Regions from separate parts of the Homo sapiens genome. Here region 2 is linked to region 1. Evidence: fine-mapped expression QTL. A gene starts in region 1. The other region holds a variant in brackets. All regions are shown on one strand. Distances are between the middles of the regions.

Region 1 (8,440 bases):
AGGGTACATAATTCTCCCATAAGGGTTGAGGTTTTTGGAAAAGGTTTTGCCTAAGCTGAGCTTTGATGAAGGGGCTAGGTTAAGGTGGGCCTAGGGAGGACTCATCCCATCAGAGGGAATAACATGGAAACATTTCAGAGAAAGGTATGTCAGGGGATTCAGACAAGACTCAGTGTGACTAAAGCATATCCTGCAACGTAAAGTTTTGTCAGGGGGCAATGAGTGATGAAGCTGGAGGGTGGATAAGGACCAAGACATCAGAAACAATAATGGATTTTAAGCAGATAATTGTCATGCTCGTATTTCTTCTTTAGAAAGAATGGTTTGGCAGCATCGTGGAAATTGGATTTATGGGACCATGACTGAAGACAAAGAGACCACTTACAAACCTACTGCAACTGTCTAGGGGATGAGGACCTGATTATAGGAGCGACAGTAGGGTATCTAAATACATCTAACTGCTTATGTTCTATGTTCAAAGTCAGAAGTTCAGGGGAAAGACACTAGAGAAATACTGCACTCATAAGTGTATAGGTAGCTTGAGAAAATAACAACACTAGAAATGAGTGAAATTACCCAGAGAAATATGTGGAGTGAAAAGATCTATGAGCTGATTACCAAACTTTGAGAAACACCATGTATAAGGAGTGGGTAGAGAAAGAACTAGAAAAGGCATGGCCAGGAAGGTGAAAAGAATGCAGAGACAATGGAGCTCCTATTGGAGTAGAGGGTTATAAAAAAAGAGGGTGTGGGAGGCTGGGTGCGGTGGCTCACACCTGTAATCCCAGCACTTTGGGAGACTGAGGTGGGTGGATCACCTGAGGTCAGGAGTTCGAGACCAGCCTGACCAACAGGGTGAAACCCTGTCTCTACTGAAAATAGAAAAATTAGCCAGGTGTGGTGGAGTGTGCTGTAATCCCAGCTACGCGGGAGGCTGAGGCATTAGAATCACTTGAATCTAGGAGGTGGAGGTTGCAGTGAGCCAAGATCACGCCACTGCACTGGGTGCACACCACACCTGGGTGTGGGCCAATGTGAGTATGAATCAGAAATATTTCTCTGATTAATTTACCCTGTCTCTTCTCCTTACCATCCCCCTCCGTTCTGTCCTCTAACTTCAGTTGCCTTCACTTTTTTCATTTTTGTCTTTCACTATTGTCTATTTTCCTTTACTGTTTTTACTTAGAAAAATTTCAAGGCTCCAGGAAATAAAAAATTTACAATAGTATAATAAGCACTCATATACAGTTCACCTAGATTTACCAATTGTCAATTGCCGTCTTTGTACACACACTCTTTCTGTACGTATGTACAAATATATACATACATAAATTTTTTTAGTTTTGGATTGAATAGATTTAGTTGCAGACATCATGATACTTTACTCTTAGATACTTTAGCTTTTGTTTTCTAACATAAACATGGAAATTTTCCAACAAAACCACAATCAGTCAGGAAATTTAACCTTGTTATGAAATGATCTAATAAACAGCCCATATTCGGATTGCCCCAATTGTCTCAATATCCCTTATAGCTTCTCCCACCCTGGTTCCACATGCATTTAGCAGTAGTGTCTCTTTAGTACCCTTTAATTCATAACAATTCTCCAGCTTTTTTATTTATGTATTTGCTTCTTCATATTTATAATTTTGAAGAGTCCAAGTCAGTCGTTTTGGAGAATGTTTCTTAGTTTGGGTTTGCTGAGTGTTCCTTCAATGATTCTCCTGCCTTCAGTCTTTCTCCTTGCCAGTTCATTTTCCATACCAGAACTGATACTTTAAAACAAAATGAGATCTAGATATTCCCTTGCTTAAAAGTATTTGAAGGTTCCTTTACTCACAAAATTAAATTCCTTAGCATGCCTTTCAAAACTTTTCACAACTTAGCTCTAATGGCCCTTTGCCATAGTCTCTTCTAGTGACTAGCGGTTTGTACTTCCAGGTATACTAAACACCAAATACTTTCTGTTTCTTTCTATCAGCCTTTCCTTCTGTTTAGAGTATCCTCTTCCAAGTCAACTTATACCTAGCCTTCAAGATTCTGTTATTTTATCTTATAGATATTAGTTGAGTGCTTATAATCCACCAAGTACTATGCTAGGTGCTGGCATACAATCCTGAACAACACCAACATAGTCTTTGTCCTTCTAGAATTTTTTTTTTTTTGGGGGGGTGGACAGAGTCTCGCTCTGTCACCCGGGCTGGAGTGCAGTGGTGTGATCTCAGCTCAATGCCACCTCCACCTCCTGGGTTCAAGCGATTATCCTGCTTCAGCCTCTTGAGCACCTGGGATTATAGGGGCGTGCCACCACACCCGGATAATTTTTGTATTTTTAGTAGAGATGGGATTTTGCCATGTTGGCCAGGCTGGTCTTGAACTCCTTACCTCAAGTGATCCGCCCGCTTCATCCTCCCAGAGTGCTGGGATTACAGGTGTGAGGCACCATGCCCAGCCTCCTTACAGAATTTATACTGGCTGAAATGTCATCTCTTTTGCACTTCTATAGCACTTTATACACATCTTTATTATAAAATGTATTACATTTCATTGTAATTTTTGCTTGTATGTTTGTCATCCTGCTGGACTGTGAGCTTTTCAAGGGTGTGACAAATTTCATTCATCTTTGTTTTCCCAGCATCTAGAATACAGCAGGAGCTAAATAATGTTTCATTCAATAAAGAATGAAAAGAAGCATTCCTGCTAAGTGTTAGCTAGCAAGTGTTATTTTAGTTAAGGAATATATTCTAATATTGTCAAATTCTCTTGGTTAGGGAGGTTTTTACTTCTTCATATCATACCACATCTTCATATGGCTAAAAGATGGGTCTAAAGCTATTTTCCAATAGGAAGATGCAATAAATAATACAGTAAGAATTACAGTCTTTTGCAGGAGTTGGCGCTGCTGCTTCTGTGAAAACTCCACCCAATGATATGAAAAGTTCTTTGCGGCCGAGCGTGGTGGCTCACGCCTGTAATCCCAGCACTTTGGGAGGCTGAGGCTGGTGGATCACGAGGTCAGGAAATCGAGACCATCCTGGCCAAGAGGGTGAAACCCCGTCTCTACTAAAAATACAAAAATTAGCCGGGCGTGCTGGCGTGCGCCTGTACTCCCAGCTACTCAGGAGGCTGAGGTTGTAGTGGGCCGAGATTGTGCCACTGTACTCCAGCCTAGGCGACAGAGCGAGACTCCGTCACAAAAAAAGAAAAAAAAAAAAAAGAAAGAAAGAGAAGAAAAGTTCTTTGTTCTGGGGTACTTTCAAAGCTGTAGCAGCAACGGAAATGACTGTTGCATTTCATTGCCATCTTCCTAAAACACATTTTTATGGAAGTCTCTTGCGCTCCTCCACAAATAGCCTTCAATTACTTAATTTCCATTAGCAGTCCAATTGATTCTTCTTGAACACCCATAGCACTATTTCTGGGTACTTGCTTTTTTTAAATTTTATGTTTTATGCTTTTTTTTTTTTAAGCATTGCTGTTTTTGTTCTGTCTTGTTTTTCCAAAGAGACTGCAGCTCCCTAAAGTCTCATCCCGCACAGTATTAGGCACTCAGTAAACAGGACACGCATTTAAAATTGACACTCTAACAGCATGCCAGACAATATCGAGTAACATAGTAATATTCCCAGTCAAGAAATGTACCAACTTAAACTTTAATGTGCATAGAAATCACTCAGGGAAATCTTGTTAAAATGTATATTCTGATTTAGTAAATTTGGGTGGAGTCCGATAATTTGCATTTGTAACAAGCAAACAAGAGATGCGGATGCCGCTGATCTGTGGACTTGCATTGAGCAGCAAATATGTAAAGAAATGTTCAAAAGGAAGGCAGATGCTTTGCTCCAAAACGTATCTTGCGAAGTGTTAATTAAATAGAAGTATGGTTAAGATGAAGCCAGGCCGAGCACTTCTTCCCCAGCCCCAAACCTCCCCTTCCTCCTTTCCATTTCCCCTTCGTGTCCAGCCAAAGTCCCCACCTCCCTAAACCATAAAAACACAAGCAGCAACAGGCCCAGCTACTCAAGACGCGAGCTCAGATAACAAAGAAATAATCGTTCCTGCACTTACTAGTCTAAGAGCCGGGGGAGTCGATGGAGTCCGGGCTGTGGCCTCTCCCACGCCATAAAGAAAAATTCAAAATTAAATCCTTGTCAGGGAGAGGCCAATCGTAGACACGGTCTCTGCACGATTCGCTCTTCGGATGGTGTAGGAGCACAGCCCGGCTTGTGATTGGCTGAGATAGCACAGAGCTCCAGCCAATCAGAGCTGAGGCGCTTCTGGTATGAATAAGGAGAAGGCGGGAGAGAAGGGGAAGGAAAGCCGGAGGGGAAAGAAGGTGTGTTACGTCCCCTCTGCTGTCGGTGGAAGCTCTGGTGTGATTGGTTGGCTCTTCTTCCAATTGCACCAATCTCAAGCTCTTCTCTGCAGAGCCCTAACTACAAAATTGAAAGTAGAGAGGAGGGGGCAGCCAATGGAAAAAAAAATTTGCACAGCAGCCAATCCTCCTGCGGCGTTTTGTGCCTTTGCCCAACAGGAAAATGTGTCTCATGCAGAGGGGCGTTACCCAGTCTCCAATGGGCGGGAGCCGGTGGAACGGAGGAGCCAATGAGTGCGAGATGTTGAGTGACAGCTGTCCAATGGAGGCCCTCCGTGCTAGTACGGCTTGCGGCTTAAGCGCCGCCGCGGTCTGCGGAATGTCAACTATTCAACATGGAGGCGGAGGTCGATAAGCTGGAACTGATGGTGAGTGCAAAGTGAAGGAGATCTACTGGGTAGTTTATTTTTCCCCCATGGCCTCGGAGGTGGGGCACAATTTGGAGTCGCCGGAAACTCCGGGCGGCGGAGGCTGGACCAGAGTCGAGTTCCCTCCTCCTGCACCAAAGGGAGCCGCCACCGTCTGGTGTCTAAACCGCCTCGGGTAAGGGGTTACATCCGGGAAACTCGTCAGGGAAATGGCGGGAGATGCTGAGGGTGCGGGGCCTTTGGAATTCCTTGTTCCTTGCCCTCACCTTTACACCCCTTACGAAACTGCGCCGGGTGCAGACCGCATTCTGTGTTTGTACCAAAAAAGATGTGAATGGAACGGTCCCTAAGCGTCCCAAGAAGGGAGAGGTGGTTCACACTCCAAGAAAGGGGAACGGAGGGTGGGGTGGGGAATAAACTGACGGGGGCGAGGAGAAATCCCTGTAGGGCCAACCCGCTCACGTTCTAAAAGGCGGGCCGAGAAAGTCTGAGAAAGGATGCTAGACTTGTATGCACAACTTCCTAACGGCCAAGGAACCCGTTTCTGTTTGATCCGGAGGTGGCAAACCGTGGGTGAGGGAAGAGGTGTGAGCGAAGGGGATCGTAACCACGAGCTCCGCTCCCGGAGCGCGGGCGGGATTGAGACAGGAAAGGCATCCTGCTCTGGAGTTGTGCACTTTCATTCATCTGTGAAAGTAGAAAACGGGGGCGAAGAATTGGAAAGCACTCCCGTTGTTGCTGGCGTGTTTGGCCTGCTCGGGGGGCGCCCAGCTGGGGGGCTGTCCTAGTTTTCTTTAAGGATCCGTCCCTCACTTGTTCTCTTTATTCCCTCCCTCCCATCCTTAGATTACCAGCTTGATCGCCCGCGCTTTTTTCCTCTTAGTGTCCTTGTTCTGTCTTCAGCCCTTTTCGTTCAGCATTATCTTTTTTTTCTTTTCTTTTCTTTTTTTTTTTTTTTCCCAGGTTGGGCTGCTTTCCTTAAAAACCTGGACTTTGGAGGAAGCGCCTGCCACTGAGCTCCTGTCTTTTTTTGTTTGTTTGCTTGTCTGTTAAATACGATTGGCCGGGCGCGGTGGCTCACGCCTGTAATCCCGGCACTTTGGGAGGCCGAGGCGGGCGGATCAAGAGGTCAAGACATTGAGACTACCCTGGCCAACATGGTGAAACTCCGTCTATACTAAAAATAAAAAAATTAGCCGGGTGTGATGGCACGCGCCTGTAGTCCCAGCTACTCGGGAGGCTGAGGCAGGAGGATCGCTTCAACCTGGGAGACGGAGGTTGCAGTGAGCCGAGATCGCGTCACTGTACTCCGGCCTTGCGACAGAGACAACGTCTCAAAAAAAAAAAAGATTAAGTTTTAAAAAAGTAAAAGACTTCTTTCTTCGTTTGTAATCCGTCCCTCCTTCCCACGCCATTCCCTGGCATTACTGCTTAGGTATCCTTTGTGCCTGCCCTGCTTTCTTCAAGCTGAATCTTGGGTCTCTAACTTCTTCCTTGGAAAGGATGGGTGGTGATCCTGGAAGAAACCTCACCCACCCCCCATTCCCACCCCAGAAAAAGTGAGGCCTTGATATATCTTATTTTCTTCTGTTGTGCTAATGAATTGGAGTGCCTCTCATATACAAATTTAATTTGAAGGCTTTCAATTACTTTTAGCATTTTGTGTTTAAATTTTCTTTGTGCAGTGTGTGTGGGGTTGGAGAAGTGTAGGGAGAAATGGGAGGGAAGAAGGAAGAATTTCCTGCAGATTTTCAAACCTGTAATAATGAACTTTTAGTTTTAAGTTTTATTATCATTTAAAAAAAACAAAATGTTAAGCATTGTAATTTGATTCTGTCAACAGGCTTAAATGTTAAGACTATCTTGCCCTTCTCCCATTCTGAATTCCTCCCTACTGATATAGATATTTCTGCTTAAATTCATAATTCATTTCTGCTAAATGATGCTAATTCTGCTTTTAACAGGTTGTTTGCTTCTCAAATTGGCTGTTTCTAATTTTTAAACTTCGTCTGGCTTTTACAGTAGAGTCAGTATTCTCACAGGACTTCTTTAGATTGAACAAATTCTCTTTTAAGTGAACAATGATGAAGTAAACATTTTGAAAAAGTAGGTTTTAGAAAATTATAAGGTAGCCAGACATTTAAACTTTTAGGTATTGTTTGAATGATGGGGTAGTATTTAAATTCTTTTTGAAGACAGGAAAAAAAGAAATGAGGTTTTTTTCCTTTCTTACATCCTTGCAAGTAAATTAGTGGTAGCTTTTTTTTTTTTCCTTTCAGGTTATTAGTTTGTTTCCATAATTATTAGGGTTTAGAAATGAATTTTTATCATGGCTCTAATTATTACTGCTTTGTGTTGACTAGATAATAAAAGACAGTGCATCTCATCTTCAGATTTACCATGTGCTTCTAGAAAAAAATGTTATACTTGTGGACCAGTTTATTTTATAAGATTTTAAGAGTAAATGATTCCTGTGCTATCTTCTGATTTTTGGTTTTACATCAGTTAAATAAAGGATTTGTCAAGGTAAAAGGAAATGCATAATATTTAATTTGAAAAGAAAGTGTTTATCCTAATTTTGTTAATACCTTAAATTTTTTAAATATTTTTCTTGTTTGTAATAACTTCCAATTCAGAAAGTTAAACACTTATCTTTTAAACAGTTGTCTTTAAAACCTGAAACTTGGCTACCAGCGTTAAATATTCTAATATTTTAGTTATGTGGCCCAGGATTTGACACCAAGACACTTATATTTCAGCTGTCCTTTGTATGAGCCCATTTCCTTAGTAGGCTCAATCCGACTAAGTAGTTGAATTGGACCGTTTAAAGGGAGGTTGGTGAAAATAATGAAAATATATTTTTGCATCAATCAACATTACTAATGGGGGAATAAGCTTATTGTAGGGCAATCTTTGTTCTCTGACTTTTTCCCCTTCACTTAATGATGGGGTGGTATTTGTTTAGCTTTGTTCTTTCGTGGTACTACTAGTGACTGTACACAAAAGGTAATGCAGTGTGATACTATGATACTATTTCTGTTTCTGGGTTTACATCTGACTTCTGATTGGGTTCTTATCCGTTAAAAAAGTTAAAATGTCAATTAGCTTGGAACTAAGGAAACTTGTTACTTAAATCTCAGTCCCACCTCCCCCCATCATTATTTTCTCTTTGACATTTCTAAGTTTGAAGGAAATGGAGATGCTTTCTGCCTCTATTTAAGATTTCAGGAGTTAACTGAAATTTTAAAATCCCCTTGGATAGTATTCAGTTAGATAGGGTTAATGTTCTGTTTAGAGCACATTGATTCCCTTCTGTTGTTATGACAGCCCTTAGTAAACTCAAGATAAAAAGCTGTAAGATGGTAAGTGCTTTTGTGTTTTCTTTGTTTAGTGGTTTAGATTCCAGAGTGATAGATTGAGTATGTAGAGATTGAGAAACTTATTATTTTACTTTTCATTTGTTTTCTTTGATACTTTTATTCAAAGGGCTTGTTTTACATGGCGTTTAATCAGTAAATTGCCTTGAAGAAGGAGCTAACCAACATCTCTGCAGAGAACAAAAATATTTTTCACAACTTTGCCTTAGTAGTAATTATAACTGGTTTTGTTAATACCAATCCTAAAGTATTAACAATACCCATTCTAATTACTATTAAGGCTTAGGGCATATTTACAAAATTCCTTTCTACATCTATGC
Region 2 (8,000 bases), 25 kb after region 1:
TCCCAGCTACTTGGGAGGCTGAAGTGGGAGGATCTGTTGAGCCTGGGAGGTTGGGGCTGTAGTGAGCCGAGTTGTTGCCACTGCACTCCTGCTTGTATGACAGAGTGAGACCCTGTCTCAAAAAAAATAAATGACAAAAATATATATATGAATATAGTCTACATTTGGGAGTTTTGTGTCCCCCAAACTCATCATGTTTTGTGACATATACGTTAGATTATTGTAAAAATCTTTCAAACCTTGGAGGTCTCAGTTGCCAAATTTAGGACAATTTAGGCCTGTAGTCCCAGCTCTCAGGAGGCTGAGGCAGGAGAATTGCTTGAACCCCGGAGGCAGAGGTTGCAGTGAGCCAAGACTGTGCCACTGCACTCTAGCCTGGGCAACAGAACAAGACTCCTCCAAAAAAAAAAAGGAAAGTTACCATTCAAGGAACTACATGAGATTATGCTAAACTTCAAGCAGAACTAAATATCAAGTTAAAAAATATGTAAGTTTAATACTTCGTTTCATAAACATGTTAAGGGTTTCTAGAATAGAGATTCTGTCTTAGGAATCTCTGGAGCCACAAATTCCATAATTTATGGTAAATTAAATGACTAAAACAAGCTTTAAAGACTTGTATTTAAAGTTGTGCTTAAGAATGTTATATAACTCATTGAAAAAAGCTATGGAATTGTGGTCTGTTCAGTAATTAAGACAAACAAAATCAGGTCTTGAGTGCTCACAGCCTTTGTTAACTTTGATTTGCTCTGGCTCCTGGTCTCTCCTCATTCTCTCCATCCACATGTTTTATGGGTTAGTGTACTTTTCTTATTTATAGGAAAAGATAATCCCTAAGTATATCTTAGTATGAGAAATTATGCAAATAGGAATTTCTTAATACACACACAGACACAAACATTAGTATTTTTAAGGAGTTGTAATTATTGATTAATTTAATCGTGGCATCTCATCTGACAAGTATAGAGGATAAATGAAAAGCTTCCACTTTTTGGAAATCATTTTAAACACACTTTGTAATTATGTACCCAACATTAATTTTTCTGGCTTAGAGCAACTCCCTGATGTTAGAGATGGAAATAAGATATTGACCTGGAAAATATGTTTAAAAACAAAAACCTTCTCTTTCTTTTATCTGTACCCTCCCCCCAAGTTTTGGCTATAAAGATAGAATTTTGGTCATTGCAGAGTTTTCCATTCCAATTTAGGTCAATGATAAGAGAAATTATTAGTGATGGAAACTAGTTTATTTCTGAAATTCTGTTTGATGACAGCTTCTGACCTTAGAAGCATTTGAATTTCTGACAGCCATTTTGTCTTACTCTACATTTGAAAGTAGGGTCCTAATAGAACCTTTTATATACTAAAAATAACTGTACATCATTTCTTATTAGACCTGAGAACTGCTTTTAACAGTTTTTCCCCTTCCACTAAGGCTTCAGGATTTTGAGAATCAATCTTTAGTTCAGTGATAAAGTTCATAATAAGAGCAGCACCCTCCCTGCAAACAGCCTCCTATGTTTTGGGATAGGAATAGGAGACCATGCCTGTGGAAATCATGTTTTCCTTTCTGTAGTAAACTCTAAGGACAGTTATATCCCTGATAAACTCGAGGCAATATATGCTTTAAGGTCCTGTAAAAGATGCGGAATTTCATGAAGTTAAGAATAATTCATTGATTATACCGCTTGCAGAAATAAACCACTTTTAGGCTGGACATGGTGGCTCACGTCTGTAATTCCAGCACTTCGGGAGGCTGAGGTGGGAGGACTGCTTCAGCCCAGCATGGGCAACATAATGAGATCCTGTCTCTGTAAAAAATCAAAAATTAGCTGGGTGCCATGGCATGTGCCTGTAGTCCCAGGTGCACTCGGAAGGAGGTAGGAGGATCCCACGAGCCCAGGAGTTTGACACTGCAGTGAGCTATGATGGTGCCACAACACTTCAGCCTGGGCTATAGAGCAAGACCCTGTCTCATAAAAAAGAAAAAGAAAATTCTTTTTAACACTGTCATATATCCATCTCAACTTTGTATATGTATACATCTCTTTTACAAAAAGAGGCCATAACATACTCAAGGCTGTTTTTGTATTTAATGAGTCATAAATATAGTGTCATGTCAAATCTGTCTATACATTATCATTTTAAAAACAAATGACCTTTTGAAAGGTTAAATAGCTGCTCATTACAAATACTACAGAAATAGAGTAAAATGTGAAAGCCCCCCCTTAAGTATTTTTTTGTATATCATCGTTTTCAATAATGGCATGGTATTCCAAATATTGATATTTACTTATTTACTTATTTATGAGATAGAGTCTTGCTCTGTTACCCAGGCAGGAGTGCAGTGGCCAATCTTGGCTCACTGCAACTTCCGCTTCCTCGGTTCAACTGATTCTAGTGCCTCAGCTACCCAAATAGCTGGGACCACAGGCACATGCCACTATCCCCAGCTAATTTTAGTATTTTTAGTAGAGATGGGGTTTTGCCATGTTGGCCAGGCTAGCCTTGAATTCCCGGGCTGAAGTGACCCGCCCGCCTCAGCCTCCCAAAGTGCTGGGATTACAGGGATGAGCCACTGTGCCTGGCCCCAAATACTTATTTTTTTTTTTGTGGAGACGGAGTTTCATTCTTGTCGCCCAGGCTGGAGTGCAATGGTGCAATCTTGGCTTACTGCAGCCTCCACCTCCGGGGTTCAAGCGATTCTCCTGCCTCAGCCTCCCGAGTAAGTGGGATTACAGGCTTCTGCCACCATGCACAGCTAATTTTTGTATTTTTGGTAGAGATGAGGTTTCACCATGTTAGCCAGGCTGGTCTCAAACTCCTGACCTCAGGTGATCCACCTGCCTTGGCCTCCCAAAGTGCTGGGATTACAGGTGTGAACCACTGTGCCCGGCCAATACTGATATTTTTAAATGTAACTTTTCACTTTAATTCAGGCATCCTATATCCATAATGGCCTCAGGGTGGTAGTTCTCCCCTTTTTTCTTCCTTTGAGGTTTACTACAGATCAAGTTCCCATGCTGGCACCCAGGTTCAGTAAATTGGGGTTATTCAGACTGTTACTCCCATATCATATGTAGCTTTTCTTGTGAAATTTGTGACTCTTTAAGCCCTCTTAATTTTAGTGGCACATAGTTGTAGCTCTTTGATCAATGGGATTGCAAATAAAGGTAACAATATGAGTATTCCTGAAATAAATTTGTTCTGTGTTTTAAATTGAAAGTGTATTTTCTGCCAGAGGTAGAAAAACACTGCCTAACTGATGAGAGTATCTGTGACCCTAGGAAATTATTGACGTCATTATTAGTTTTTTGTATTAATATCTGACAATGGCTACTCAGTATCTTGATTTTGGCTCAAAATGTAAGAGAGAGGCATAGAGAAATGAATGACTTTAAAATGTTAACTACTTTTTAAATTTTTCATAGAGCATAGTTATTATGGATAATGGATATTTTATATACTTTTTATTTCCACATTTTCAAATGAGTATGTATCACTTATTGAAATACTAACAAATGTAAAGAGAAAAAAAGAATAAAGTATCATGTTTACTATTAGTCTTTTGGTTTACACA[A/G]TAATGATTTGTGCTGATCTTTAGTTCCAGAAAGCTGAGTCTGATCTGGATTACATTCAATACAGGCTGGAATATGAAATCAAGACTAATCATCCTGATTCAGCAAGTGAGGTAATCTCCGAAATAAATAAGCTTAAAAAAAATCAGCCTTAACTGAATACTTTAGAATTTTCTGATAGCATTCCTAATAGTAATAGATCATAAGAATTATATTATTAAGTTTATAGAATCTTAAAATCTTGCATTGTGTTGGAAGTTTGGTTATAGCACACTGGAGAAATAGTACCAATAGTCCGTGAAATTTGTGGCTACTTTTTTTCCCCTAACCTTTAAAAAATAATCATTGAGTTCAGAGGTACAAGCCACTGTGGCAGCCTCTGAAATTCCAAGAGAGAATATAGCTACCTCTAGGGCAGTTGTTCTTCAGTAAGTTTGAGGGGAGAAGTCCTGGCAGTCAGCATATTCTCTGAGGAAGGTAATGATACACTATTAGATTTTTTACTTATATTTTATGAATAGTGATTTCTAGATAAAGCTATCTATTTAATTACTCTAAGTTTAGGTTGATTAGAAACATTAACTCTGCTTTATGTCATAAAATCATTAAGTGTAAGTATACATACATGTTCATGGGGGTGAAAGTAAATAATCTCCAAGCATCGTCTGTTAACATTAACACTAAAATCACTAATTCAATAATGTTTATCTTTTTTTCCCCAAAGCCCAGGTATCAGGCTTAATTAATATTTATCTTTTTTTTTTTTTGAGACGGATCACTCTGTCGTCCAGGCTGGAGTGCAGTGGTGCAATCTCAGCTCACCATAACCTCCACTTCCTGGGTTCAAGCGATTCTCTTGCCTCAGTCTCCCAAGTAGCTGGGATTACAGGCGTGCGCCACAATGCCCAGCTAATTTTTTTTTTTTTTTTTTTTTTTGTATTTTTAGTAGAGACGGAGTTTCACTATGTTGGCCAGGCTGGTCTTGAGCTCCTGACCTCAAGTGATCTGCCTACCTCAGCCTCTCAAGGTGTTGGGATTACAGGCATGAGCCACCACGTGCGACCAATATTTGTCTTTGATAGCACTTACCAGCAGACAAGAAACAGTGCATTTTACAGTTAAAAAAAAATTCCATACAATTAAAAAAATTTTTTTTTGGATTGGGTAGAAGTATAAGTTAAACTAACATTTTATAGAAAATTGGGAAAATTTCACGAATGTTCAGTTTTTACTGTTTATTTCATGGAATGCTAGAATTCTATGGGAGTGTAGTTTGTACTGTTCTAGCTCCCTATTCTTTTCTTTCTTTCCTTTCTCTTTTTTCTTCCCTTTTTTCTTTCTCTCTCTCCCCCCCGCCTCTTTCTCTCTTCCTCCCTCCCTCTCTTTTTCTCTCTTCCTTCCCTTCCCCTTACCCTCCCTTCCTCCCTTCCTTCCTTCCCTCCTTCCCTCTTTCTCTCCTTCCTTCCTTCCTTCCCTCCCTCCCTCCCTCCCTCTTTTCCTTCCTCCCATCCTTCTTCTCCCTCCCTTTCCTCCCTTCCCTTCCTTTCCCTTCCTTCTGTTATCCAGGCTGGAGTTCAGGGGTGTGATCTTGGGTCACTGCAGCCTCCACCTCCCAGGTTCAAGGGATTCTCCCGCCTCAGCCTCCCGAGTAGCTGGGATTACAGGCGCAGGCTACCATGCTCGGCTAATTTTTGTATTTTTTAGTAGAGATGGGGTTTCACCATGTTAGGCTGGTCTCAAACTCCTGACCTCAAGTGATCCACCCGCCTCAGCCTCCTAAAGTGCTGGGATTAGTCGTGAGCCACCACACCTGGCCCTTTCCTTCCTTTTCTTCCTTTCTTTCCTCACTTCCCTTCCATTCCTTCATTCCTTCTCTTTCCTTCCCCTGCCTTCCCTTCCTTCCTTTCTTTCTTTTGTCTTAAAGATTCCTGTGATATTTCTTCTCAGCCTTTTGGCTAAGATCAAGTGTAGTATCTGTTTTTATCAGTTTAAAGACCGTGTGTGTGTGTGTGTGTGTGTGTGTGTGTGTGTGTGTATGTGTGTTTAAGATAGGGTCTCACTCTGTCACCCAGGCTGGAGTGCGGTAACAAAATCTCAGCTCACTTCAGCCTTGACTTCCTGGGCTCAAGCAATCCTCCCACCTCAGTCCGCCAAGTGCCTGGAACTATAGGCACACACCACCACACCCAGCTAATTTTTGTATTTTTAGTGGAGATGGGATTTTAACATGTTGCCTAGGTTGGTTTTGAACTCCTGGACTCAAGCGATCTACCTGCCTTGGCCTCCCAAAGTGCTGGGATTATAGGCGTGCGCCACCACGCCTGACCTAGTCAGTATCTTTCAAGTACTGTTTTGAAAGACATTGACGTGTAGTGCTCCCATTTTTCCTCTGACTTCCATCTCTCATCTTTGTTCCACCTGTGGGTATTTTTTTTCCTGCAACTTTTTAAAAAAGCAGCTTTATTGAGCTATAATTCATATACCATTAAATTCACCCCTTTAAAGTATATAATTAAGTGGCTTTTAGTATTCATGGTTTTGTAGCCATTGCCACAATAACATTTTCATCACCTCAGAAAGAAACCCCATACCCATGAGTAGCTACTCCCTACCACCCTTCCCTGCTATCCTGCAAGCTCCCAAAGACGAATCTACTTTCTGTCTCCACAGATTTGTTGTCTGAACATTTCAGATAAATAGAATCATATAATATATGACCTTTCATGTCTAACTTTTTCACTTAGGATGTTTCTTTTTTTTTTTTTTTTGAGACCGAGTCTCGCTCTGTCACCCAGGCTGGAGTGAAGTGGCACTATCTCTGCTCCCTGCAACCTCCGCCTTCCGAGTTCAAGCAACTCTCCTGCCTCAACTTCCTGAGTAGCTGGGACTACTGGTGTGTGCCACCACATCTGGCTAATTTTTGTATTTTTTAGTAGAGACAGGGTTTTGCCATGTTGGCCAGGCTGGTCTTGAACTCCTGACGTCAGGTGATCCACCCTCCTCGGCCTCCCAAAGTGCTGGGATTGCAGGCATGAGCCACTGCACCTGGCCCACTTAGGATGTTTCTAAGTTTCATCCATGTTGTAGCGTCAATCAGTACTTCATTTGCTTTTACTGCTGAGTAATACTCCACTGTATGGCTATACTCCATCTTCTTTTCTCTCTCTTTTTTTTTTTCTGAGATGGAGTCTTGCTCTGTCCCCTAGGCTGGAGTGCAGTGGTGCAATCTCAGCTCACTGCAACCTCCGCCTCCTGGGTTCAAGCGATTCTCCTGCCTCAGCCTCCTGAGTAGCTAGGAGTACAGGTGCGTGCCACCACACCAGCTGATTTTTGTATTTTCAGTAGAGACAGGGTTTCACCATGTTGGCCAGGCTGGTCTCAAACTCCTGACCTCATGATCCACCCACCTCGGCCTCCCAAAGTGCTGGGATTACAGGTGTGAGCCACCGTGCCCGGCCCATACTCCATTTTCTTATCCAGTCATCAGTTGATGGTGGTCATTTGTGTTGTTTCCACCTTTTGGCTGCTATGAACATACATTTACAAGTTGTTGTGTGGACATGTGTTTTCATTTCTCTCGAGTATATACCTTGGAGTAGAATTGCTGGCCATATGATAACTCAGGTTTAATATTTTAAGGAACTACCAAACTGTTTTCCAAGGCATCTAAAGCATTTTACATTCTCAGTTTAAAAAAAAAAATTGTGGGCTGGGTGTGGTGGCTCATGCCTGTAATCCCAGCACTTTGGGAAACTGAGGCAGGCTGATCATCTGATGTCAGGAGTTTAAGACCAGCCTGGCTAACATGATGAAACCCGTCTCTACTAAAAATACAAAATTAGCCGGGCGTGGTGGCACGAGCCTGTAACCCCAGCTACTTGGGAGGCTGAGATAGGAGAATTGCTTGAACCCAGGAGGTGAAGGTTGCAGTGAGTCCAGATTGCGCCATTGAACTCCAGCCTGGGCGACAGATCAAGACTGTCTCAAAAGAAAAGAAAAGAAAAGAAATTGTAGTAAAATGTAAATAACAACATTTACCATTTTAATATGGTCCAGGCTGAACTCCAATTCCTAGGTTTATCCTCTGGCCTCAATATCCTTAGCAGCTGGGATTACAGGCACGTGTCCTTATACCTGATAGCCATCTTAATCTTTTTTAAGTGAACAGTTCACTGGCATTAACTACATTCACATTATTGTACAATATCACCATCATCAATCTCCAGAAGGTTTTCATCTCCCCACATTGTAACTGTATATCCATTAAACAATAACTCCACGTTCCTTTCTTCCACTCCTAGCAGCCACCATTCTACTTTCTGTCTCTATCAATTTGACTACTCTAGGGACTCATATAAGTAGAATCATATAATATTTGTCTTTTTGTGACTCATGTATGTCACTTATAATGTTCTCAAGATT

Alleles and levels. Positions count from the first base shown, and alleles are read on the strand shown. Sizes are in standard deviations (SD) of each study's normalised expression.
As copies of A replace G in region 2, the expression in prefrontal cortex of the gene that starts at base 4,688 in region 1 goes up (small effect, 0.25 SD a copy in BrainSeq).

What was found. PIP is the estimated chance that this variant, and not a neighbour inherited with it, causes the effect. A credible set is the group of variants that fine-mapping cannot tell apart.
Region 2: its variant is the best candidate, but not a certain one, in a credible set for the expression of SKA2 in prefrontal cortex (BrainSeq, PIP 0.83).

What each region holds. Positions count from the first base shown.
Region 1 is chr17:59,151,434-59,159,873 of GRCh38, reverse strand. SKA2 (spindle and kinetochore associated complex subunit 2) reads left to right here and starts at 4,688. Exons shown (of 4, transcript NM_182620.4): 1 at 4,688-4,743. The coding sequence starts at 4,711. PRR11 (proline rich 11) reads right to left here and starts at 4,128. Exons shown (of 10, transcript NM_018304.4): 1 at 4,069-4,128. RefSeq lists enhancers at 443-1,642, 3,951-4,000, 4,661-4,900.
Region 2 is chr17:59,126,972-59,134,971 of GRCh38, reverse strand. It overlaps SKA2 (spindle and kinetochore associated complex subunit 2), which reads left to right. Exons shown (of 4, transcript NM_182620.4): 2 at 3,605-3,691. It also overlaps the pseudogene RNU2-58P. Among named protein-coding and RNA genes, the nearest start is that of MIR454, 6.9 kb to the left of the region's middle. The variant A/G (reference allele first, on the strand shown) is at 3,581.